Regions from separate parts of the Homo sapiens genome. Here all the other regions are linked to region 3. Evidence: fine-mapped expression QTL. A gene starts in region 3. Each other region holds a variant in brackets. All regions are shown on one strand. Distances are from middle to middle. Region 1 overlaps BDNF-AS (BDNF antisense RNA). Region 2 overlaps LGR4 (leucine rich repeat containing G protein-coupled receptor 4). Region 3 holds the start of LGR4 (leucine rich repeat containing G protein-coupled receptor 4). Region 4 has its middle 34 kb from the start of CCDC34.

What was found.
Region 1: its variant is fine-mapped to the expression of LGR4 in whole blood (INTERVAL, PIP above 0.99).
Region 2: its variant is fine-mapped to the expression of LGR4 in whole blood (TOPMed, PIP above 0.99).
Region 4: its variant is fine-mapped to the expression of LGR4 in testis (GTEx, PIP 0.95).

The regions. Positions count from the first base shown.
Region 1 is chr11:27,643,199-27,651,425 of GRCh38, forward strand. The region is part of intron 3 of BDNF-AS (BDNF antisense RNA); the gene reads left to right. Among named protein-coding and RNA genes, the nearest start is that of LINC00678, 13 kb to the left of the region's middle. The variant C/T (reference allele first, on the strand shown) is at 3,485.
Region 2 is chr11:27,450,894-27,454,893 of GRCh38, forward strand. The region is part of intron 1 of LGR4 (leucine rich repeat containing G protein-coupled receptor 4); the gene reads right to left. Among named protein-coding and RNA genes, the nearest start is that of LGR4-AS1, 19 kb to the right of the region's middle. The variant G/T (reference allele first, on the strand shown) is at 1,866.
Region 3 is chr11:27,470,625-27,476,829 of GRCh38, forward strand. LGR4 (leucine rich repeat containing G protein-coupled receptor 4) reads right to left here and starts at 2,166. Exons shown (of 18, transcript NM_018490.5): 1 at 1,494-2,166. The coding sequence starts at 1,678. It overlaps LGR4-AS1 (LGR4 antisense RNA 1), which reads left to right and starts at 1,107. Exons shown (of 4, transcript NR_131170.1): 1 at 1,107-1,208; 2 at 2,154-2,333; 3 at 2,544-2,572. RefSeq lists silencers at 1,280-1,339, 1,590-1,759, 1,890-1,939.
Region 4 is chr11:27,325,337-27,333,563 of GRCh38, forward strand. No RefSeq gene overlaps it. Among named protein-coding and RNA genes, the nearest start is that of CCDC34, 34 kb to the right of the region's middle. The variant C/A (reference allele first, on the strand shown) is at 3,159.

The DNA of each region.
Region 1 (8,227 bases), 170 kb after region 3:
TCCACTTTACAAGTTCTTTATTCTCTCATACCCGGGAAGTACCACAGCTACTGAATTCTTGGTGAAACCAGAACCTAAAACAGTAAAAGTGGAGTTGGGAACCTGGGGAAGCAATACTCAACCAAGCCAAAACTAAGATTGCATATTTACATAGAATGGCTGTAGCCATGTTGTTCTTCACACTCACAAAGTGAACACACAGCTCAAGGCTCAGTGGCCAGACTATGTGGTGGGGGTGGGATGTGGCAAGATGTGCATGCATGTGAAAGAACAGTGTAAACTCTAAAACATCTACAACAGGGAAAAGCAAAAAGAAATCCGTATTTCTCCCTCTGATTATCTTGGTCTCTCTCTTCTGTCATGGATTAGACCCAGAGAAGAATACTAGTCCAAATCTCCAGCAACTGTTCATCATTTTTAACCTTTCCTGCCTGGTAAAATAACCTGGGAGCTTTGAAAATAATATTGATGCCTGAGCTTCACTCCCAGAGATTCTGATTTACCTGATGCAGGGATGCAGGATGGGGTCTACAATTCATAATTTTTTTAAAACTCCCCAGATGCCTAATGTGCAACTAGGGTGGAGAATTACTCAATTAAACTATCAAGTTGCTTTCCCTGACTGCTGGGATCCCTTCCTTGGCTGCTGCAAACAATGTTGTAGCCACTTAGGGCTAAATACACTTATAATGTGGCCTTACACTGCATTCATTCAATTTAATAGACACTTGTTGACTGCTTTCCGGTACATGGCTAGGTGAACTGCAGTGGGTACACAGGTGAATGAAAATGTCCACTGCTCTAGAAGAGTTTATACAAATAACTGCAGCTTAGTAAGGGAGCAATTATTTTACCCAAGAAAATGCTAAAGGCTTCATGCAATTGAACCTTTAACATATAGAAACATTTTTTATATTCATAGAAAATTCATTTGTTAAGAGAAACCTGCCTAATCGAAAATTTGCTTTGATAAGTCTACCATGGTATACAAACAAGCCGTGGACTAGTGCCTAGGTTTGAAAAGTGAAAGCTTCTCTGCATAATAGAGTGAGAGCAGGTGATCAGCACTAAATGCTGTGTAGGGAAATGGTCAAAAGGACACTTAATGACTTTTAGAGATGGGATCTCAATCTGTCACCCAGGCTGGAGTGTAATGGCATGATCTTAGCTCACTGCAGCCTCAAACTCGTGGGCTCAAGTGACCCTCTCGCTTCAGCCTCCTGAGTAACTGGGACTACAGGCACATGCCACCACACCCAGCTATATATATATATTTTTAATTTTTTTGTAGAGACAGGGTCTCGCTATGTTGCCCAGGCTGTTCTCAAACTTCAGGTCTCAAGCAATCATTTTGCTTCAGCCTGCCAACGTGTTGAGATTACAGGCCTGAGCCTCCATGCCCAGCCATAAGGCCATTTTTAATAAGAACTGTTAAAAATAAAATGTCAATTATGGAATGTAAACTTCATTTTCACATTTATTAAGAAGTCTTCCATAAAATACACATTGCTCATTATTCAGTGAGAGTGAATTGTGTATGAAAAATTCGAAGAAGTGCTAAATCCCACCTTGAGATGGCAGAAGAAAACCAGAGGGTATACATGGGGCAACTGCCTGATGTGTGGGTTTGCTAGATTTTACAATTAAAATTGCAGGACACCCAGTGAAATTTGAATTTAAATTAATACAAATCATTTTTTACTATAAATATGTTCCATAGAGTATTTGCACACACTTATATTAAACAATTATTCATTTGGTTTGATGTTTTTTCTGGCAGCCCTATTATGGGTTATGGTTGGGTAGGGATTTTATAATCAGAGAGGGAGACAGGGAATGGACAAAGATGCAGAGGAGGTAGAGTGTAAGGTACATTTAGGGAATAGGGAGAAGTAGGGTTGGAGTGCACTGTCAAGTGTGTTGGAAGTTGTCTGGACATTAAAGTAGGAAAATAAAGCTACATCCTATAAGGCCATAATGCCAATATCACCAATTTGTTACTCTGTCAGCAATGGATAGCCCTTTGATATATTAAAGGGAGGGAAATCATATGCTCTATTCATCCATTCATCTATCCATCCATCCATCCATCCATCCACATTAATGTATCTGTATCAATATGGCACACTTGAAAAGCATATGTCCTCTGAATTTATATTCTAGTTCTGCTATATGCTCACTGAGTGATCTTCTGCAAATTACTGCCTCTCTCAGCCTCAGTTACCTGAAAAATAGGCATAATTAGATCTACATCTTACATCTCTCATCAGGTTTATCACAGTGACATACAATTGCCAAGCAGGCAAGTCCACCTTGAATGCCTTTTTGACTCGTTTGAGGGTTCCAATACTGTGTGTGCCAACTTAGACCATTATTTCCCAGAAACATTCCTCTTAGTCTATCGATTTCATTCCCTTGCAATGCACTGGCCTTTACACCTGCATAGTCAACAGTGATTAAAGACAGCATTTCTGTCTCTCCTGCCACATCGGTACATTTGTGTATAGGTAGGTGTTGCTATTTGTGTAACGTATTACGAAGTGTTTTCATGTTCATTATTGTCATTGAACCTTCAGAGAGATCATTCTGCTATCATGGGAGGATGTTGGAAGTGGGTTGGGGTAGAGAGATTGGGGGTAGAGAGATGGGTTGGAAGGCTGCTGTGATAGCCCAGGCGAGATGCAATGAAGACCTGAACCAGAGTAGTGGAAAGGTGAGCTGAAAGTGAAAGGAATGGATGAAAACAAACGGCACAGAAATAAAAACAAAGGGAAGTTCTGACACCCGCGTTTTGGTCTCCTTGACATTGCTTCCATTTCCTCTAGGGACATGTCCTGGATAAGGGTGAAACTGGATGCTCCTTGGCAGTTTCAGATGTCACCACCCCTAACTTTCCATTGGATAAAAGAAGGCCCAAAATAGCCTCTGGTCCCATAGGCTAGTGATTACTGGGACTCAGATTCCTGTCCTGAAAACACGGGGAAGAAGCCAGGCATTTGCCCACTTACCCTCTCACCAGCTGACCCAGGGCATTAGCACCCTGGTGCCTGCTGACGCAGAGCATCTGCCAAATTCGATTAGCCCCGTGGCCTGGCTAAGCTGGGCATGTCCTGCACTGCTTCTAAAACAAGCCCTCCAGGAAGGGGCTGCGAGACTCGGAGATGTTTTTTCCTACTGTCAAGCAGGAATCACTGCTTGGCAGTTTGAGGTAGGGATGGGGAGGAGATAAAAATATTAGAAGATGCAGAAGATAAAACCAAATACTAATCTAACAGTCACTTCTGAAAACAGAGAAAACACTCCAAACAGTCAACATGGATTGTTTTTTTTTCTCTTTGCTTCAACTTAGTAAAGCCCTTTGGAGTCCAGCAGAATGAGCCAAGCAGTGTGAAATGTGTGGAAACATGTTGTTGGCTCAGAGCAGGTTGCTTGGAGGCGGGACAGGTGACGACCTGCCTGTGAGAAGCCCATAGAGCTCTCTTCT[C/T]CTCACCACTGGGTCAGTTGATCCTCATCTGTAGATGAGAGATCCTCATCTGTAGACTCAGCCCTCCTGCAGCCATTAGTGCCTCTCCTGTTTCTAATCACAGGGAATCTAAAGAAATTTAAGGAGCCTCGTTCAGGAGCTCAGTGTTAGATTGAGCTTTCTGGTGGGTCCATTCTGACTCTGAATGTTGATTTTACTATCTAAAATCATTATTCTTGTTTCTATGGCTAGGGTCCTACTTGTATTCAATTTCCTATAGAACTAGCGTCCTGTCTTGTTAATTCCCAGTCATTAGAATCCCACACCCAAGTTTGGGACCAGGTTAGGGCTCTGAGTCCCATGGGCAGAAATCTCTGATACCTCTGACTCCTGTTTACCTAGAGGAAGAAGAATCTGGAGCAGCAGTTCTACCCTGGCTGGTCAACAAAACCACTGGAAAGATCTTTAAGAAATACAGATGCCGGGCGCGGTGGCTCACGCCTGTAATCCCAGCACTTTGGGAGGCCGAGGTGGGTGGATCATGAGGTCAGGAGATCGAGACCATCCTGGCTAACAAGGTGAAACACCGTCTCTACTAAAAATACAAAAAATTAGCCGGGCGCGGTGGCGGGCGCCTGTAGTCCCAGCTACTCGGGAGGCTGAGGCAGGAGAATGGCGTGAACCCGGGAAGCGGAGCTTGCAGTGAGCCGAGATTGCGCCACTGCAGTCCGCAGTCCGGCCTGGGCGACAGAGCGAGACTCCGTCTCAAAAAAAAAAAAAAAAAAAAAAGAAATACAGATGCCTGGGCCCCACCCCCAGAGATTCTGATTTACCTCGTCTGGGTATAGATATATTTTTTAAATTCCCTATGTGATTCAAATGTACAGGTCAGGATTGAGAGCCACCAGTCTGGTGGTTAAAATTCGAGACCTTGGGATTATATAGATGTGGCTTCAAATCTGACTATATCATTTATTAACTGTATGACCTTGGGCAAGTTATTTAGGCTACTGTGTTGTCAGTTTTCTTGTCTCTCAAATTACATCTATCTCATGATTATTTTAGATAGCATGGAAAGCATTTAGCATGGCATCTGGTACAAAATAGGGATGTAACAGTATTGCCTATTGCCAAACACTTGTCCTTGTGTTCAACCAATTGCTAGGGTAATCTTACCCTTTACTTGATTTACATATGATTCTTTGCATATGGATCGTCTGTCTGAAACCCATCGATAGAACTCTTTATACTCATTATAGAACATTCTTCACCCTTTCGCATCTAACTTCTGCTGAACTCAAGGGACACATCAGTCCTCAGCACCTTGACTTTACTACCTGATCTACCCCATCACCAATGGGATCTGTTCTTAAGAAAGTGGGAAAGCCAAGATAGCAAACTGAGTTCATCTTTTGGTTCAATTCAATTCAGTTGGCAGTGGAGCATGACCTTGACATGACTTGTGAGGCTGAGGTGCAGCAAAGACTTACAAGTGATGTCAGCCATACATGGAAGAATGGGGGAGAGAAGGCTGGCGCTGGTGGCCAGGGCTATTGCAGACCCAGCAGGCCTGAGTCATTATCCTTTCTCTTCTCCACCAATCCCAAACACAAAATAACTGTAAAGTATTGACCTAGGGAGGATTGGGCACTCCTGGGTCTTGCAAGTGGTTCCACAACACTCTGCCTATCTGCCCAATCCCAGCAATTCACAGGAAGCTCATCAGATTGTCCATGAGGTTAAAGGGGTGACAACTGCCCCATATCCAAGTATTGGAAATAGCTGACATGAAGCTCTAGAAACCCTACATTCAGGTTTTTCAGCACAGAGTAGGGTTGTATCCACTTTTGGAAAGGCCTCCATGCAATGAAAGACTGTTTGCATGTTAACCTTAAAAGATCAATCCAGGACTCTTCTGAAAGCTAAAAATTCTAAGCACCACTGGTGGTCTCCCTTTTTGAAGGAAGCCAAATCCCTTGGACATGTAACTAGCTATTCCACCCCCCTCCCCACAACCACGGCCTTTTTTTTTTTTTTCCTTCTGTATGTTCTCAATGCCCTTTGCACTTTTAAATTTTTCAGTGGTTTAAGAGTGGCTCCAGATCCAGGCTGCCCTGCTACTCACAAGTGTTGCAGCCTTTGCCAACTTAATTGAATTCTCTGTGCCTTAGTTTTTTTCATCTCTAAAATGGGAGTACTAAAACTACCACCTAGTTTATGGATTGTTGTGCAGTGAGAAAATCTGCATAAGATGCCTTGAACACTGCCTGCTTATAGTAAGTACTAGTCACTATAATTGTGCAATGGGTTAAATGTATGTCAAGGACATGGGGCAGAAGTTGAGGTAGGATTTTCCTGATGTGCCATGTCTATTTTTAGAAATGTGACTGTGGCCCCTTGTTTCTTTCAGACTATGTGAGTTCATCCATTTCACCCTGGCTTCAGTCATTGCCATTCAGCTGGGATAGACACTTAGGAATAATGGGCTTCATTTGGAATGTACAGTCTAGAAAAACACCCTTTATTGTAGTATATCTCTTCCATTTGCTTGAGTGTATGTAGTGGCCACAGTTTAACTGCCAAGCAGTATTATTGCTAGTGGGTAAACAAGAGTTATCTCTCTGAGTCTTCCAGAAAAGACAAAGTGACCCTGGATGCTAATGGCACAGATGAGATGGGATCTCTTCCAGGAGTCTGAATATGAGAAAAGAGTCTCTGAAGTGTGTACTAGATGAGCCCAGCTTATTACCAGTCAGCAGAGTGACTTCCAAGAGTTTGTAAACATTTTCTGAGGCTTTCTCATGGGTCTGTAACTTTCCTAAGTGCTTTATATGTATTACCTCATTTAATTGTCACAAAATCCCATGAGGTAAGTGGGAATATTTTTACCTGTCCTTTGCAGGTGAGGAACTGAGGCACAGAGAAGTTAAGTGACTTGCCTACAGTCACACAGCTCTTGTAGCAGAGTTGGGATTCAGACTCCACTCTTTACTATATTATGTGCCCCCTGAGTGGTGAGATGTTGGATCCCAGAGGAAGCAGAGCTCTGAGGTCATCAGGAAGGAAAGCAGGGCATGAAGTGGGAGCAGAGGTGGATTGAACAAAAACATAGATTTCTCAGAGATTCAGGCACAAAGGACTCAGGGCCAGGAATAAACCAAAGTTGGATTGCTGAAATGAGGAGTTTCAAACACTGGCATGCCAGTGAGGTTTGTCTCCTAAGCTAGCCAAAGCTCCACTCAGAATGACCTCTTTACCATTCTGAAATATCTGCTGTTTCTCTGAGGAAATCTGCTGCTGAATGTGGTGTTGCTGTGATTTGTTATGAGATACTTTTGTTCTCAAGGCCATCCTCTCAGGAGGAGGAACTATCCAGAGTACTCGGGAGGTGGTGGTGAAACAGATTGGGAACCGTACATCCTTGGTGAATTTATAAAGCCCCAAAGAACAGAGATGCAAACCCATTTCATTCAAAGAGCTCTGTTAACAGTGACTCTACAGGATGCTAATCCAGCAGTTTCATGCAGAGTTTCCTGACCCTGCAACTTGGCAAAACACAAGGAATCTCTCCTTGCCAGGCACCATGTAATACAGTAAGAATGAGTGACATAAAACAAAGGTAAATACATTGCCTGGCTTTGAAAGTAAGGTTAGACCCTGGTAGAAAATTTGCATCTTGAGGAATATATGGGCACCTTCCCCAAGGTATTTTCTGCCTGCTTGTCAGACAGTTGGTAATATTTTTATAGTTGCATATGAAGTAGAAACCTTCCTTTGGTCACATCCTCCCCAACCGCCACACTAACCCAAGGTGCCTCCTGCTTTTAATCTTGTGGCAAGTACCATGATATAAGGACACCAGCTATGGAGGGAGGCAGGAGATGCACAGTGAATTATCTCAGAATGCTTCCCAGCCTTTAAGTGCTTCAGAAACCTCTTTAATCTCTTTTTATGGCAAATAATGAAGTAGGAAGAATGAAATTGTAATATTAAAACTGAAATTTACCTCCAAGACCATCCTCTTGGGAGATCCCCCAAGTTCACCCTCTTCCTCTGACAGTTGAGGGCATGGAGGTTCAGATACCGGAAAGGGTTGGCCAACCTGATGATTGAACTACCAAGATACCTGGCTCCCAAGGTAGGCTTGTTAGAATTCAGGCTTCTGTATTGCCTAATGGATGGGTAATACATTTGGACACCCTCCCCTCCATCCTAGAAATAGAAAAATCTTCTAATGCAATTTGCCTTGTAAAATGTGCAGGAGTGTGCACACACACATACACATACACACAGAGATGGGAATAGCTATGTTCAGGTCCTCATTTCCAGAAACCAGTTCCTACAATATAGAAAAGCTTTGCCACAAAGTCTGAGGAAGCCCTTTGTATTTATAGTCTGGTCATTCTAGAGGTGTGAACCTAGATTTCCTCAGCTGGATGTTAATAGCTGATTAATTCAGGATGCTGATTTAATTTGTGACCTATAAAACGCTATTTCACAGAGAATGGGCTGTGTTGGCATGTGCAGAGACCAGCTCCCCAGATGGAATAATCTTTTCCTTATTAATTTGCTGCATGTTGCTTCTCATTTCTCACAGTCGTTCCAAATGTGTTACAAACGACTACGTGCTCTGGGTCCTGAATCCACTACTGCTGTTGCTTTGAAAGAAAAAAAAATTGTTGACTATGAAGGGCACTGAGCTTTCCTGGCTCACATTTGCATGCTCACTTTCAAACCATCAGTGCACTCTTCTCTTACAACACT
Region 2 (4,000 bases), 21 kb before region 3:
TCTTCATAAACCTTTCAATTTCTCCAACAAGTCTGATACCCTGGGACAAAATAATGTCCAGTGGCAGGTTATGTAATGATCTATATACTACTTCCAGGATTACTATTTCTAGGTTATGTAAGGATCTATACTATTTCTAGGACTCCTTACAAAAACACTTCTTAAAAACACTACAGTTTTTAGTATTCACAACTAAATGAACGGTACTTTTCAATACTTAAAACTAAAGTTTAAAGAGTCAACTTTTATTTCCAAAGTTAGCACAATTTTTCACTTAAAATAAGGAAATGTTAAATTTAAAGAGACCACCAGAGAACTGTTTAGAACCATTTAGTTTGGAACCATAACTTCAGACAAATGCTTCACACCACTATTTTAATGAAGAGTACCCACCAGACATCACTTAAGAACTGAGGCCTAAGTCACTATATCAAAGGTATAAATTATGGTCCAAAGACAGCGCCAGGCACTGCTGAGCTTGGAATTGCTTACTGAGCAACCAAGTTGTTTCAAACAAACTAAATGTTTTAAGGAGGCTAAAGGGCAGTGGAGGCAATTATTGGAAGGAAATTTCTCACTAGGCCAGAAAGGAATAATTAAGTCTTTGCATGCTAAATCACATCACTGGGGTTAACAATGAAGTAATCAAGTGTAAATGGTGACAAAGCCCATCTACAAGACTCATGAAAGGAAATTAAGGTTGTGGGTAATCTAGACTATTGTTGCTTAAATACCACAAAAATTAGTCCCTAAAACTTCATTCATTCATCCCCTGTTTAGATAAATGTGTGTGCTTTTAGTGGGAGGCAAGAAATTGGTTAATCCAGTAATTAAGGCAAATATACTGAATCATCAGAAGTAAAACACCATTCAGCTACTAATTCACAGGCAGAGATCCAAGGTCATTCCTCATACTAAGACTGTACCAAGCACTCAGTAATAAAATACTTTCATAATAGGAGAGCCATGTCCATTCCATTCAAAAATATGATTCAAACCATTTAAATTATAAACCTAATGCATAATTTGCATATTGTACTTTCTCTGCTTTAGAACATAAAAGAGAATTCACATACACACATACATAGCTGGGGGGAATGTGGGCATGAAGCTGGGGGAAAAAATGGACACCCACGTAATCTTCCAACAATTGCTCAATAGCAAATTAAAACTGGTTATGCTCTCAGGGAGCAAAATAATGTTGATGTGAAAGTTAAAAGATCTAGATTGAGACTCTGGCTCTGCAACCTCAGGCTGTCATCTTACCTCAGAGACTCAGTTTCCTCATCTTCTTTAAGGGGTAAGGCCATGGCTAAGACTTCTCAGGACTCTCAACAGATCTGGTATGTTTGTTGTTGTTATTTTAAAAAATGGTTTAAGACTCACTAGAAGTTGCAAAACTAGTGCAGACAGTTCCTGCATACCCTTCACCCAGCTTTTCCCAATGGCAACATCTTACATAACCATAATATATCAGCTAAACCGGGAAATTTACTTTGATGCAACACTATTTACTAAAGCTACAGACCCTACTCAGATGGATTCATGTAACTACCACTACAATCATGGTAAGGAACTGCTCCACCACTGCAAAGAAATGCCCTCCTGCGACACTTTTCTGTCGCATCATTTTCCTATCTCCAACCCTAGCAACCACTGGTCTGTTCGCCAACACTATAATTTTGTCATTTATAGTAAACCTGGAATCATACAGTATACAACTTTTTGAGTTTTTTTTTTTTTTTTTTTTTTGAGACAGAGTCTCTGTCGCCCCGGCTGGAGTGCAGTGGCGCGATCTCGGCTCACTGCAAGCTCCGCCTCCCGGGTTCACACCATTCTCCTGCCTCAGCCTCCCGAGTAGCTGG[G/T]ACTACAGGTGCCCGCCACCACGTCCGGCTAATTTTTTTTTTTTTTTTGTATTTTTAGTAGAGACGGTGTTTCACTGTTGAACTTGGTTTTAATCACTCAGCCTTAATACCGTTGAAAACTATCCATAGTCATGTGTATCAATAGTTTGTATACTTCTGTGTAATAGCCTGTTGTATTGACATACCAATTTATTCTGCCACATTGACTTCAAACCTTTTTATGTTTTTTCTTTTATCTTTTATTTTCTTTTTTAATGTTCCTACATGCACAGTGACTTTTATGTTTAATTAAGTTGTCACTATGGGGTAGGGAGAAACCTTTTTTTTTGAGACAGGGTCTAGCTCTGTCGCCCAGGCTGGAGTGCAGTGGTGCGATCTCAGCTCACCACAACCTCCACCTCCCAGGTTCAAGCAAATCTCCTGCCTCAGCCTCCCGAGTAGCTGGGATTACAGGCGCCTGCCACCATGCCCAGCTAATTTTTGTACTTTTAGTAAAGACAGGGTTTCACTGTGTTGGCCAGGCTGGTCTCGAACTCCCAACCTCATGATGTGCCCACCTCGGCCTCCCAAAGTGCTGGGATTACAGGCGTGAGCCACCACGCCCGGCCAAGAGGAACTTTTTAAATTTTGTTTTGCCATTGCTTAAGATGGATTCATATTCCTATAGATATTGACTAATTATCTTAATATCTAAATTTCATTCCAGCCTTCCCTGGCTACCCTACTTTAACAGCAAACCACCTTCATCTTGCTTTATTTTCCTTGATGGTATGTAACATTACCTGACCTTTTATATTCATTGTGCTTATTTACTGTCTACCACTAATCCCCCACCCCCCTGCCAGGTAAGTTATAGGAATGCAAGGATGGCATCAGATACTGTTCAATTCTGTGTCCCCAGCACCAAAAACAGTCCCTAACACATCAGACACTTAATAAACAAATGTTGAACAAATTAATTTTTAAAGTTCTGACTTATTATCTCAGTAAGTAATTATTATTTTAAAGTTGAAAGAGTACTGATTCTGTAAACCAAAAATAAAATTCTAAGGGCCCCAGCCTTCTGAATGGAACCCTCCTCTTGGCCAAAGGCATTCCAAAGTTAACCTGAAAAACTAGTTCAGACCATGATGGGAAGGGGAAGTTGGACATGCCTCATTATATCCTACACCCTTTTGGAATTTAGTAAGAGCCAACCAGCATTAGCATCAACACAGACCTGAAGACTTATAAGAAACATTTATAATACAATCTATTCTCTTTGAAGCCTGCTACCTGGAGGCTTCATCTGCATGATAAAACTTTGGTCTCCACAATCCCTTATCATTGGAACTCGGACATTCCTTTCTATTTATTCCAGGCTTTTAGATAAAAACTAAACTCTTTCAGCCAATTGCCAATCCGAAAATTTTTAAATCTACCTATAACCTGGAAGCTCCCTGGCTTCAACTTGTCCCTCCTTTCCAGATCAAACCCATGTCATCTCACAGGTATTGATTGATATATTATGTCTCCCTAAAAAGTATAAAAGTAAGCTGTACTCCAACCACGTCTTCAAGACTGTCTGTGGCTGTGTCACAGGCAAGTCCTTAGCCTTGGCAAAATAAACTTTCTAAATTGATTGAGATCTGTCACAGATACTTTTGGGTTGACAATTCCATGAACCATTATACAAATATTTGTAGCTCTCAAAGAATAGTTTGAATAAATAAAATTATTGGCCGGGCACAGTGGCTCATGCCTGTAATCCCAGCACTTTGGGAGGCCAAGGCAGATAGATTGCCTGAGGTCAGGAGTTCGAGACCAGTCTGGCCAAGATGGTGAAACCCTGTCTCTACTAAAAATACTAAAACTTAGCCAGATGTGGTGGCATGCACCTGTAATCCCAGCTACATCAGGGGCTGAGGCAGGGGAATTGCTTGAACCAGGGCGGTGGTGGTTGCAGTGAGCCGAGATCATGCCACCTGCTCTCTAGCCTGGAAGACAGAGCAAGACTCTGTCTCAAAAAAAAAAAAAAAAGCAAAATTATTTGCATTAAACATTTTTATTCACCTCCACAAATTATCTCCTACAATTTCAACAAAGTACTGAGCCCATGGAAAACTGGGAAGACAAGGAAGAAGCACAGGAAATTT
Region 3 (6,205 bases):
TTCCCACTTAATGTAACTTTATGAACAAAATGCTCTTCACTGCAAAGTTAACTTTTTTTTTTAATGACAAGTTAAACTTCACTATACTGAAAAAAAAAAAAAACCTCAAATACATAACTAAAACTAACCTGAGACAGGAAAAATAACAAATGGGGAGGGGAAGGCTGAAGGTAGAAGAATGAAACAGGTTCCAAGACAACAGGCCTCGATGCTCACTAAAAGTCCATCCTGAGAGGGCAAGCGGAACACCTTTGCCACCACCCACCTGGAAATACAGCAATGCTCCTGCCTGCATAAAGATTTCTTCACAGGGTCCTTTAAAACTGTCTATTTCTAAGAGGTCCCTTCCACTACAGGTAAAAGGAAATTCCCTCTACCCTAGGGCCCCTCAGGATCCCTTCCTCTCTCACACGTTTCTTCGACTGCTCCTGATTTAAGCATTCAGCTGGCCACGCAACGCAAGAAGCAATAAGAACACAAAAACCCTACCCTGTTCCTCCTCTATCCGTGGCCTTTGCCACCACCTCCACAACCTAGTTCAGATTCCTCTTCTTTTCTCAAGGGAACGTCTAAAGCTCTCAAGTCCGTTTTGGCAGGGCGATTTTGTAAGTCTGAAACATTTCAGTGTGTCTCTCGATCTCAGGCAGCTCAAAAGAAAAGATCTGCTGGCTGCGTGAAGGTGCATTAGAAACCTGCTGCTACCTTGCAGCCTGGGCTGAGCATATGCTCCGGAACTTGCTTCTCTTCCAACATCCTGCACCTCAGGTCAGCATTCCTTCTTTAAAAGGCCTTGTTGGGTAAGAGCATGTCCACCAACAGAACCCTGTAATTCTCCCTTGTTTTCTCGGACTCCCCTGCGTGCTGCAGAAGCCTGGGCGTTAGTGGGGTAGTCCCGAGTGGAACTGGGCCGAGGTAGGTGCCGGGACGCACTACCTGGATGGGGCCAAATTGGAAGGAGATTCGCCCTGACTGAGGTACAGGTGTTTCTTCTCCCCACATGCTGGAACCCAGGAGGCTCCAGGTGCTTCCCCACGAGACATGCCTCGGTATGCAGACTGAGGCCAAGTTCTCGGCGCCCTCAGCCCCGCCAGTAGCGGAACTCCTGCCCGCTGAGCGAGGGCCCTCATGAGAAGGGAAGGTCGCGTGGACAGGCTGCCAGGGGCAAGCGTTTTTAGATTACTTCCTCCTTCTTGGCCCCAGATGCACTTGTGAGTTGGGGGTGTGCGCGGTGGGGTGGGAGGGTGCTTGTGCCCAAAAAGTCTGGGAACGAAAGCTACTGCTGGCTCGAACCCGGACTAGCAAAGTGCGGAAAGCCCGTGGCACAGGAGTGGGTGCCAGGCAGCCCGCACGCAGGTGACCGGCGGACCCCCTCCCCAGGCCCGGGCGGCGGCGGGGCGGGGTGGGGTGGGACTGACCCCTGGCTCCGCCCCGCGGCGCCCCCCGCTGGGCCCCGTTTCCTCCCCCCCCCTCGCGTCCCCGCCGCCCGCACTCACAGCGCTTGGGTGAAGGCGCTGAGCCCCTCGGGCACGGCCGTCAGCCCCTTCCCGGAGCAGTCCACCCGACGGTCGCCGTCGCAGCTGCAGGGCGCCGCGCAGAGAGGCGGCGCCGCGCCGCTGGGCCCGGCCGAGCCGAGCAGCCCCAGGGCGAGGAAGCAGAGCAGCCCTAGCGGGCCCGGCATTGCTGCGGCCGCCTCCCGCGCCGGCCTCTCCCGCGGCGCTGCTCGCTCCGCTGCCCTCCGATGTCCCCCGCCGCCCCCGGGCAGCCGGCCTGCGGGCTGGAGCGGGGGTCTCTTCCTCGGCGGTCCGCGCGGGCTCGGCCCCTTCAGCAGTCCGCCGCAGCGGCGCAGGGACGCGGCGCTCCGGAGTTTCGCCCTTCCCGCTGCTCCATGGACGCGCAGAGGCAGCCCCGCTCCTCCGGCGGCTCACGCCAGCCGGGCCGGCCCGGCGCAGCGGCGGGGGCCGCGCTCTGCCATCGCACCGGTCTCCCTGTCCCTGGCCTCTCAATGCAGCGGCTCTTCAAGGTTGCAGAGCGCAGCCTTCAGCCATGCCGGCCACTCGCCCCAGCCCCCGCCGTGGCTCTCGCACAAACACCCAGACTCTGGCTCGCTGTCTCCCAGCCGCGGCTCAATCTCTTCCCGTCCTTTTCCCTTCTAGGGTTGCACGCTCTGGTTCCCAAACCCCCGGCCGCTGGCTTATGCAAATCACTTAGGTACATGCAAAAGTATCCCTTCTCCCGGAGCGCCATTGGCCCGGGGAGGTCTCGAGCTCATTACTATGCAGAGAGGAGAGCCGCCATTGGCCAAGAGGAGGACCAGAGGGGCGTGTTTCTCGGGCGTGAGTGACAAGGTGGTGGTGGTTGTGGTGGTGGCGGCGGTGGTGGTGGTGGTGGTGGCGGCGGTGGTGGTGGTGGTGGTGGTGGTGGTTCAAGGCAAAATCTTGACTTGGCTGGATTTGTCTGGCAGGTTGTGGATTGAAGGTAGAAGGATAGTAGGACAAGGGGTCTAGTTTTTCCCTCCCCCACCCGTCTTTTTGTTCCCTCCGCAGAAATTGGATCTCCTAAATTGGATGACCTGGTAAGTAGAACTTCCCTCCAGCGTTCAGTTAAGTTTTAAATGACTCTCCGCTGTTCCAAAGGGCGAGGACGTCTGGAGCTCTGCAAACGGAAAAAAGATTTTGAAGAGGAGGAAAAAAGTTTCCCTCGATCTGACACACATCTTTGGGTTTTAGCTATACACTAAGTTAAAAGTGTACCCTCTCCAGTGCCTCACTTCACCTGGGATCTTTACACCTATCTTGATACACATTTGGTAGCTAAGTCTTAGCAATTCATTCTCCCCAGTCCTCTCTCTGTATTTGGTGTTTTTGGTGACTGCAAATTAGACTCCTTTCTCACGCACTTTAAAATCCTGAAACACAGGAATTTTGTAAAAGGTCAGAGAAAGTGATGTTTCTGAACACTGGACAATTTCCAAAACATCTGAGTGGGAGGTGACTACGGCTGAGAAGCCAGCAGCAACGTTGGTGTTAGGTAATTATCAGCATTCCCTCCTCTTCTGGATTTTGAGTCCCTGTGGCCTAATAGACCCCACGGAATCATTACCTGTACCAACTACGGCTTTAAGGGTACTTCGTTTCTTGCTCTCTGCCATGGCGTTGAGTCGTTTTACTCTATAATGGAGACATTTTTAATGAATACATTAAAACAAGCAGGATTCGGCCGGGCGCGGTGGCTCACGCCTGTAATCCCAACACTTTGGGAGGCTGCGGCGGGCGGATCACCTGAGGTTGGGAGTTCTAGACCACCCTGACCAACATGAAGAAACCCCGTCTCTACTAAAAATACAAAATTAGCCGGGTGTGGTGGCAGATGCCTGTAATCCCAGCTACTCGGGAGGCTGAGGCAGGCGAATTGCTTGAGCCCGGGAGGCGGAGGTTGCGGTGAGCTGGAGATCGCGCCATTGCATTCCAGCCTGGGCAACAAGAGCAAAACTCTGTCTCAAAAAAAAAAAAAAAAAAAAAAAAAAAAAGCAGGATTTAAAGATAATTATCATATAAAGTTGACTAGCCATCGTATGTAAATAAAACTTAGGACAATGGAAACAGGTTGATGCAGACCTATAAGTTTAAAATGAAAAAATTTTATCATCTTTGTATTTGGGAGTTTATCTAAAAGATAATGTCAGGTTGGGCACATAAGTCACATACAGTAAATCTGTCTAGAAGCTAGAGAGTTAATAAATAAACATATGCCTTCATTTCAAGTTTTAGGAATGACATATCTCCTCTCACTGCAGGGCTGAAAGACAACTTAAAGACCCCCAGAAAACTCTGGTTTTATAGATAAGAAATCTGAGGCTCGAGAGAGAGTGTGTTCTGCCCAACATCATCACGGAACAGCTCCTGGGCTCCTGGCTCCTAATCTGGTACTCTTAGAGCCTTCCCTAAATAGGCTTTCATCGTCTAAATCATTTCCATTATTTTCTAGCAACTGTCATGAACAAATAAGGAAGAAATTGTAAAGTTAGTTTCTGTAATCGTTTCTTTAAGATCTCTTCTTTTTTTTTTTTTTTTTTGAAACGGACTCTCACTCACTGTGTCCAGTGGCGTGATCTTGGCTCACTGCAACCTCCACCTCCCGGGTTCAAGTGATTCTCCTGCCTCAGCCTCCCCAGTAGCTGGTATTACAGGTGCCCACCACCATGTTTAGCTACTTTTTTTTTTTTTTTTTTTTTTTTTTTTTTAGTAGAGATGGGGTTTCTCATGTTGGCCAGGCTGGCCTCAAACTCCTCACCTCAAGTGATCCACCTGCCTTGGCCTCCCAAAGTGCTGGGATTACAGTCATGAGCCACGGAGTCCGGCTTATATGCAAATCTTGATTAAAAATGCAGAATGATTTAGTAGGCCTAAGTGGGGCCCAGAAACCAGCATTTTGTTGCACAGCAAGTGAAAGTGACACAGGTGATTCATGAACCACACTTGGAGAACTTTATTCTTTGTCTTCAAATAATAAAATCTTATGGCTGAAAACTTAGGTGAAAGGAGAGATTTATATTTTGAAAAAAGGGGAGATGCAGATTTTACTAAAAAATAAATTCCTATTGTCTATTAGATGACAAATGTAAGAAAGGAAGATTCAAATTTGCAGCTTAGCCAAGAAGATAAAAGATCAGGAACAAAAGACTTGGGTAGGGAACAGAAAAGATAAGATATATTGAAGTGTTTGTATTTCTTATTTGGTACATTTTGTATGCTTTGCATTAGAGATACATTGGTCAATTAGTCTCCATCTCTTGGATAAGATGTCCCAAGAAAGTATAAAGACAAAAAACAAAAAACCAGTGATTAAGGTAATATCTCAGATAACTAGAGAAAAATGATCAGCTCTTAAATAAATCATAAGGACTGGAAAGATACTGAGATAAACCAAATAAAAATTGACGGCAAGCAAAAAATAATAGGGTCTCTGTCTACAGATCGGTTCCTCTTAAAGTTTTCATTGGTTGTGTGTAAGTAAATTTGCGGCATCCACAGGCTAGATAAAAAATAGAACTGGGCTGCAACCCCTCTGCATATGTGGCATGGAGCTTATGGGCCATGAAGAAAGTACCCTATCGTAGTGATACTTGCCTTGGTGTCTTTGTGCAGAGCACACAGGACTTGTTGACTGATGGATAAGCTGGACTTCGGTTCTACCACCCCTTTACCCAAGAACTCTTGTAAACATAGAACCTGAACAAGTATATGCAGAGGCCCTACCTGTTGGGTGAACGGTTCAAGGTGCCCTGTTACAACAACAGCTCAGATACAGTGGGGGCTCTGAGTGCTGTAATGATTGACTGGATAAAAGTCCTCAAACATGTAGAATTTCACTTTTTATGAACTATTTCGACTTAGAAAAAGAGTTAACAGCAATCAGCTTAAGAAATATTACGAATGTAGTTGAAGCTCCCTTTGTACCACTCCCCAATCATATTCCTTTTCTTCCTCTCCCTGAGAAGTAAGCAGTTTCCTAAACTTTGTAGTTAATTCCCATGCATATTTTCATGCTTTTCGTATGCATGTATCCCTAAACAATAAACAGCATTGTTTTTCATATATAAATCAACATCATTGCGTACTGTTCTGCAACCTGCTTTTTCACTCAACCTGTGAGTGTAATCGACATTCACGAACTATGAGGCTTGTAACTTCATTTTTATTACTATATAATATTCCACTTAATGAAATGCCCAGTGTGTTAGGGTTCTCCAGAGAACAGAACCAATAGGATATATATAGAAATACAGAAAGAGATTTATTGTGAGGCACTGACTTATACAATTATGGAGACTAAGTGACAATCTTCCATCTACATGCTGAAGGCCCAGGAAAGCTAGTGGATTTGTTTTAGTCCAAACTTGAAGGCCTGAGACCCAGGGGAGTCAATGATGTTTTGGTCGAAGTCTGAAGGCCTGAGAACCAGGAGCAGTGAAGTCTGAGGGGAAGAGAAGACAGATGTCCCAGCTCAAGCAGAAAGCAAATTTATCTTTTCACTCTTCCACCGTTTTTTGTTTGTTTGTTTTTTTAAATGGTGTTTTGTTTTGTTTTGTTTTTGAGATGGAGTCTCTCTCTGCGGCCCAGGATGGAGTGTAGTGGTGTGATCTCAGCTCACTGCAGCCTCCACCTCCTGGGTTCAAGCGATTCTCCTGCCTCAGCCTCTCAAGTAG
Region 4 (8,227 bases), 140 kb before region 3:
GACAAAAATCACATGATTATCTCAATAGATGCAGAAAAGGCCTTTGACAAAATTCAACAGCCCTTCATGCTAAAAACTCTCAATAAACTAGATATCGATGGAATGTATCTCAAAATAATAAGAGCTATTTATGACAAACCCACAGCCAATATACTGAACAGGCAAAAACGGGAAGCATTCCCTTCGAAAACTGGCACAAGACAAGGACGCCCTCTCTCACCACTCCTATTCAACATAGTGTTGGAAGTTCTGGCCAGGGCAATCAGTCAAGAGAAAGAAATAAAGGGTATTCAATTAGGAAATGAGGAAGTCAAATTGTCCCTGTTTGCAGATGACATGATTGTATATTTAGAAAACCCTGTCATCTCAGCCCAAAATCTCAGGCTGATAAGCAACTTCAGCAAAGTCTCAGGATACAAAATCAACGTGCAAAAATCACAAGCATTCTTATACACCAATAACAGACAAACAGAGAGCCAAATCATGAGTAAACTCCCATTCACAATTGCTTCAAAGAGAATAAAATACCTAGGAATAAAACTTACAAGGGATGTAAAGGGCCTTTTCAAGGAGAACTACAAACCACTGCTCAATGAAATAAAAGAGGACACAAACAAACGGAAGAACATTCCATGCTCATGCATAGGAAGAATCAATATCGTGAAAAAGGCCATACTGCCCAAGGTAATTTATAGATTCAATGCCATCTCCATCAAGCTACAAATGACTTTCTTCACAGAATTGGAAAAAACTACTTTAAAGTTCACATAGAACCAAAAAAGAGCCCGCATTGCCAAGACAATCCTAAGCCAAAAGAACAAAGCTGGAGGCATCACACTACCTGACTTCAAATTATATTACTAAGCTACAGTAACCAAAACAGCATGGTACTGGTACCAAAACAGATATAGACCAATGGAACAGAACAGAGCCCTCAGAAATAACACATCTACAACCATCTGATCTTTGACAAACCTGACAAAAACAAGAAATGGGGAAAGGATTCCCTATTTAATAAATGGTGCTGGGAAAACTGGTTAGCCATATGCAGAAAACTGAAACTGCTGAAACTGGACCCCTTCTTTACACCTTATACAAAAATTAACTCAAGATGGATTAAAGACTTAAACATAAGACCTAAAACAATAAAAACCCTAGAAGAAAACCTAGGCAATGCCATTCAGGCCATAGGCATGGGCAAGGACTTCATGACTAAAACACCAAAAGCAACGGCAACAAAAGCCAAAATAGACAAATGGGATCTAATTAAACTAAAGTGCTTCTGCACAGCAAAAGAAACCACCATCAGAGTGAACAGGCAACCTACAGAATGGGAGAAAATTTTTGCAATCTACCCATCTGAAGAAGGGCTAATGTCCAGAATCTACAAAGAACTCAAATTTACAAGAAAAAAACAAACAATCCTATCAAAAAGTGAGCAAAGGATATGAACAGACAATTCTCAAAAGAAGACATTTATGCAGCCAACGGAGACATGAAAAAACGCTCATCATCACTGGTCATCAGAGAAATGCAAATCAAAACCACAATGAGATACCATCTCATGCCAGTTAGAATGGCAATCATTAAAAAGTCAGGAAACAACAGATGCTGGAGAGGATGTAGAGAAATAGAAACACTTTTATACTGTTGGTGGGAGTATAAATTAGTTCAACCATTCTGGAAGACAGTGTGGTGATTCCTCAAGGATCTAGAACTAGAAATACCATTTGACCCAGCCATCCCATTACTGGGTTTATACCCAAAGGATTATAAATCATGCTACTATAAAGACACATCCACATGTATGTTTATTGCGACACTATTCACAATAGCAAAGACTTGGAACCAACCCAAATGTCCATCAGTGATAGACTGGATTAAGAAAATGTGGCACATATACACCATGGAATACTATGCAGCCATAAAAAAGGATGAGTTCATGTCCTTTGCAGGGACATGGATGAAGCTGGAAACCATCGTTCTCAGCAAACTATCACAAGGACAGAAAACCAAACACTGCATGTTCTCACTCATAGGTGGGAATTGAACAATGAGAACACTTGGACACAGGGTGGGGAACATCACACACCAGGGCCTGTTGTAGGGTTGGGGGCTGGGAGAGGGATAGCATTAGGAGAAATACCTAATGTAAATGACGAGTTGCTGGGTGCAGCAAACCAACATGGCACATGTATACCTATGTATCAAACCTGCACATTGTACCCTAGAACTTAAAGTATAATTTAAAAAAAAGAAAAAAAAAGCATCAAATTTAATTAGGCAAATCAATCTAGCCAGAGAAAACCAACATATGTCTAGAGTTCCCTTACAGAATTCATTTGGAAGATTTCTGCAAAATCACAACAAAGAAACTGATTGCATTAAAGCTTCTAAATCCCATAAAGCATCACGTATTGGAAAATGTGTAACATCACATAATTTGTCAGTAGGCATATGCTACTGCTGTTATTAACAAGTACACAAAATGATTTATTAAGCATCTTCTATGTGTCAAATATTGTATGAGGTACTTTACATGGTTTGTTAATCTTTGCAATCACCTTATGAAGCAAGTATTATTAAGCGCATTTTTTAGAAGAGTAAACTGTGCCTTAGAGAGGTTAAGAGACTTGTCTAAGTTCCCACAGCGTAGGTAGTAGATCATGTATTTTGTTTGTTTTTTGAGACGGAGTTTCACTCTTGCTGCCTAGGCTGGAGTGCAGTGGCACGATCTCGGCTCACTGCAACCTCCAGCTCCAGGGTTCAAGTGATTCTCCTGCCTCAGCCCCTCAAGTAGCTGGGATTATAGGCGCCCGCCACCACTGCCAGCTAATTTTTGTATTTTTAGTAGAGATGGGGTTTCATCATGTTGGTCAGGCTGGTCTCGAACTCCTGATCTCAGGTGATCCACCGGGCTCGGCCTCCCAAAGTGCTGGGATTACAGGCATGAGGCACTGTGCCTGGCTCAGACCATGTTTTTAACCTCAGGTGAGTCCCTACAGCTCTCTTGAGCCAGGGTGCCTCTCAGCAGAAACTGGGCTTGGCCCAGAGGAAGGCTTCCTGAAGTCAGTTGTTTATGAACCACCCACTCTTTCAAGATGGGAATGACATTGTCCTCACCACCTTTACTAGAGATAAGCAGTGACCAATGTTCA[C/A]ATACTAAAAACACAAAAAATGAACCACACAAAATAGAATTTTTAGGATAGAAACGGGCCTTTGACATCAGCCTAACATCTTCATTGAACCAATAAACCGGTGAGCATTTCCTCTATTTTATTGAGAGATATCTTTCAAGACTTACCTTTTAGATTTACCTATGTAAGCACTTTGCATCTCAGCCTATACAAAGGGAAGAAAACTCTTGGCCCAGGGAGAGGGAGTTGCAGACTGGTATGTACTGGATGGTTGTTTTGGTAAATTTTTCCAACTAAGAACACATTCCACTCCCACGCCACCCTGTGCTGCCACCACCAGAGAAACAATGATAGTTTCCATCTCCAGCTGCCCCTCAGGTGGTTCCCAGGGACATGAAACAAGGAGGAAGGGAGAGGCTCTTTCTTTTTCCAAGGTCATACGCGCATTCTATCAGCTAAGAGCCCAGGAACGAGAAAAGGGAGAGGTGGCTCTGTTGTTTCTAGCAAAGGAAAGGGTAGTGTTCCCTCTGACTTCTGCGCATAAGGCATAGCTTTCTCCCAAATGACAGATAATTGAATATTTTCCCTTCTCAATTTTAAAAGGTAATTCAAGATACAATTGCCCTTTCTGAAAAATTTGCTCTCTTAGGCAGACTGCCATTATCAATAGTAGTAGGTAAATATTCACTGTAAAGTAACTGTGTTTTTTCCCTCAAGCCAACATATGAATTTAATTTATGATATTAATGACCACGGCAAATACATGAATATCATTTACTATATTTTTTTTGGAGAAAGAAAAATTAGTTTTTTGTCATAAAGTGTATTACTATTTTTTTTTTTTTAGAGCTTGAGAAAACACTCTTTTTTTCCTTTTCAGCTTTTATTTTAGACCCAGGGTACATGGGCAGGTTTGCTACCTGGATATATTGCATGATGCTGAGGTTTGGGGTATGAATGACCCCCACCCGCCCACCGAGGTACCGAGCATAGTAACCAACATTTAATTTTTCAACTCTTGTCCCTCTCCCTCCCTTCCCCCTCTAGTCATCCCCAGTGTCTACTGTTCCCATCTTTATGTCCATGAGCACTCAATGTTTAGCTCCCACTTATAAGTGAGAACACGCAGTATTTGGTTTTCTGTTCCTGTATTAATTCACTTAAGATAATGGCCTCCAGCTTCATCCATGTTGCTGCATAGGACATGACTTTGTTCATTTTTATGGTTGTGTAGTATTACATGGTGTATATGTACCACATCTTCTTTATCCAATCCACTGCTGATGGGCACCTAGGTTGATTCCATGTCTTTGCTATTGTGAATAGTGCTGTGATGAACATATACACATGCATGTGTCTTTTTGGTAGAACAATTTGTTTTCTTTTGGGTATATGTCCAGTAATGGGATTGCTGGTTCAAACGGTAGTTTGCCTTAAGTTCTTTGAGAAATCTCCAAGCTACTTTCCACAATGGCTGAACTAATTTACATTCCCACCAACGTGTATAAGCATTCCCTTTGCTCCACAGCCTCACCAACACCTGTTGTTTTCTGACTTTTTAATAATAACCATTCTGACTGGTGTGAGAATGGTATCTCATTGTGGTTTTGATTTGCGTTTCTCTGATGATTAGTCATGATGAGCATTTTTCATGTTTCTTGGCCACTTGTACGTCTTGTTTTGAGAAGTGTCTGTTCATAACCTTTGCTCACCTTTTAATTTTTTTTTTTTTTTTTTTTTGCTCATTCAATTGTTTCAGTTACTTACAGATTCTGGATATTAGACCTTTGTTGGATGCACAATTTGCAAATATTCTCTCCCATTCTGTAGGTTGTCTATTTACTCTGTTGATAGTTTCATTTGCTGTGCAGAAGCTCTTTAGTTTAATTAGGTCCCATCTGTCAATTTTTGTTTTTGTTGCAATTGTTTTTGAGGACTTAGTCATAAATTCTTTCTCAACATTGATATCCAGAATGGTGTTTCTGAGGTTTTCTTCTAGGATTGTTATAGTTTGAGGTATTACATTTAAATCACAGTGTAATTTGTTAGTGTAACATAACTACTGTATTCTTGATTCACCTAGGCCTTAGGTATCATAATAAGCAAGTCCATGAAAGAATAAGCTTTGAATTGCTAATTAGATCATTAGCAATTTATTTTCAAAATAAGAAGCCCCATCTTTATTACTCTGAGGCCACAGATGGCCTATGTTTGTCATCAAACCTCAAAGTATATTTTCCCATAGAATGTTAAATATTTTCTTTACAAATGACCAGGATTTTAGAAATTTCCTTTGTAACTTTGTAGTAATGTGTCAATATATACAAGCATCTGAAAGTCCCTTTGATGTTCAAAAGCTGTCATATCACCTATCCTTGGAATCTGAAAGAAAGAAAGGTTACATAGGGAACCACCAGTGTTCTAAGTCCATTCCTTACTCTCCAGCCTCCAAAATTATTAAATTCTAAGTTTTGTTTATTCGGGTGCCTCAAGCCTGAGTCTCAGCTTAATCACTTTGTCCCAGAAGCTTTTCCTGACTCCAACAAAGGTTAGCTACCTCCTCATATGCCCTCACAGCTTGTGCTTTAAGGTAAGTATGGCTTTAACTGTAATCTCTGCTAGAATGTAAATGCTAACAGATTCAGGATTAGTTCAGTCTTGTTTACCACTAGAATCCCCAGATTCTAGCATAGTGCTAGGAATTCAATACATACTAGAATGCCTTGCTCATTCTACCTGACTGCTTGCACAGCATTTGATATTCTAGAAGACCTTCTACTTCCCCTTCCTGAAAGCTCCCCTCTCTCACTGTGGCACACTTTCCTCTTTTGCACCTCCCACCATTTTCACTGGTCTTCCAGTGGCTTCTTTCCTTCTGCCTTACCTTTATACTCAACCTCTACATTCCATCCTAGTCTATCTTTTCTGGGCCAAATATGGCAGGCACTTAATATGGGTGGAATGAAGGAATAAAAGAATGTCATGCTTCAGACTCTTCTTGAGAAATGCTATTCACCTCCATAGTTTCAATGATTATGTTAAACTAATAAGGTCTAAATATTCCCAAAACTACACTTCTCATCTGGGCAACAAACCTTTATCTGTAACACCCCCTTATGTCAATATGTTCATAACTAAATTCAGGATGTCCAATTAAACATAGCAGATTAATCATACAGAATTATCTCCTTTCCCACTCCAATCTCTGCTAAGATGATGGCAAAGGAATTTCTTTTAAGAAAAAATGTACAAATCCACAAGGGCAAACAGAAGAGAATACAATGGTTAACCACAGATTCCTACAAATTTTGGGATGGTGCAGAGAGGATAGAGGTGAAACAACTGACTTAGGAGAGTACTGGAGTTAGGACAGTATGGATGTAGTGTTTTTCCTCATCTTTAAGGACATTAATGATAGTTGCAATTTTTTTTCTTCTTTCTTAATTGGCTCTGTTTCCTCTGAGTGCCTTTTTTTTTTCTTTTTCTCTTTTACTGTTTAAAGGTTTCTAAATGCTGAAATAAATACAACAACAACAACAAAAATTCAGCCTGCAGAATCCTGGAAGGGCTCAGCATAGGGGAACACTAGCTACTAAGGAGAATGAAGCTTATACACTAACTAGCTAGACTGAAAACACAGGAAGTGACAGTTTACCAAGAAATGAACTGTGATATACAGAACTACATTCCCAGGTCCTACTCCGGAATGCTGGCAGCTAGGCTTATATCTCTCCGGAAGATTAGAAGATCCTTCTCTGAGAAAATGAACAGCCTAAGGGGGAAAGACTTCCAGGTATTTGGAAGTCTACCCACAACAATAAAAAATCCACCATCAACAAGCCCTACCTATGCCCACATAGCTTCTATTCAGCCTTTTAATGCCCTATTCTTAAATAGGAACAGACAGGAATTCATATAACAAATATAAATGTCAGACAAGGATTAAAAAACGTTTGAGGAAAACCTCTAATAAAACCTCAGAAAAAGAGAAAATGAAGAAAAAAAGGCATCTGGAAGAAACAGAGCCAATTAAGAAAAAAAACTGCAACTAATGTCCTTAGAGATGAAAAAAGATATTGCATCCATAAAATAAGTATAGGAGGCTATGAAAAAGGAATAAACAGAAAAGAATGTTTGGAATTTAAAATAAGGTAGCCATAAAAAAATTATTCAAGAATTGGAAAATAACATCAAGGACTTCTCACAGAAAGTGGTCTCCCTCACCAGGGTAGGGGGAAAAAAGTAAGACAGGAGAAAAATATTTCCTTTTAAATTATTAGAGAATTAATTCAGGAAGACCAGTAATTGCCTAACAGGATTCTAGAAAAAAGGGACCAGAGAATATTATGAGAGGAAATTATCAAATAAATAATACAATAAAATATCCCCTTGGGAGCAAGACTGTGAGGCAGTGAGAAGTAAGCAAAACGCTCCTGTTTTCCATCAAACAACATTTAGTACTATTTGAATTTTAAACTATGTGCATATATTACTTTGATAAACAATTTGAAAGGGGAAAAAAAAAACCCTCAGTTTCTCACCCCCAAAGCTGTCATTCCTTTCTGTATTCCCTTTCTCTGCTAATATTATCATCACCCGTCAGCTCCAAAGCAGCCCTTTAAGTTCTACTTTTTTTTTTTTTGAGACAAGGTCTCGCTCGTCACCCAGATTGGAGTGCAGTGGCATGATCACAGTTCACTGCAGCTTTGACTTCCTGAGCTCAAACGATCCCCCCACTTCAGCCTCTTGAGTAGCTGAAACTATAGGCACAAGCCTCCATGCCAAGCTAATTTTTTAATGTTTTGTAGAGATGGGGTCTCCCTATGTTGTCCAGGCTGGTCTTAAACTCCTGGGCTCAACTCCTGGGCTCAAGTGATCCTCCCACCTCGGCCTCCCAAAGTGTTGGGATTATAGGCATGAGCCACCACACCTGGCCTAAGTTCTACTTCTGATGGATCTTTCACACATTTCTTCTCTTCAACCCTACTACCCTCATTGGATCCTCAATCACCTCTTCCTGGAATGTTCCATAATGTCATTACTGGTGGCTCTGTCTTTGGTCTCTGTCCCTCAAAACCATCTTGCTACGG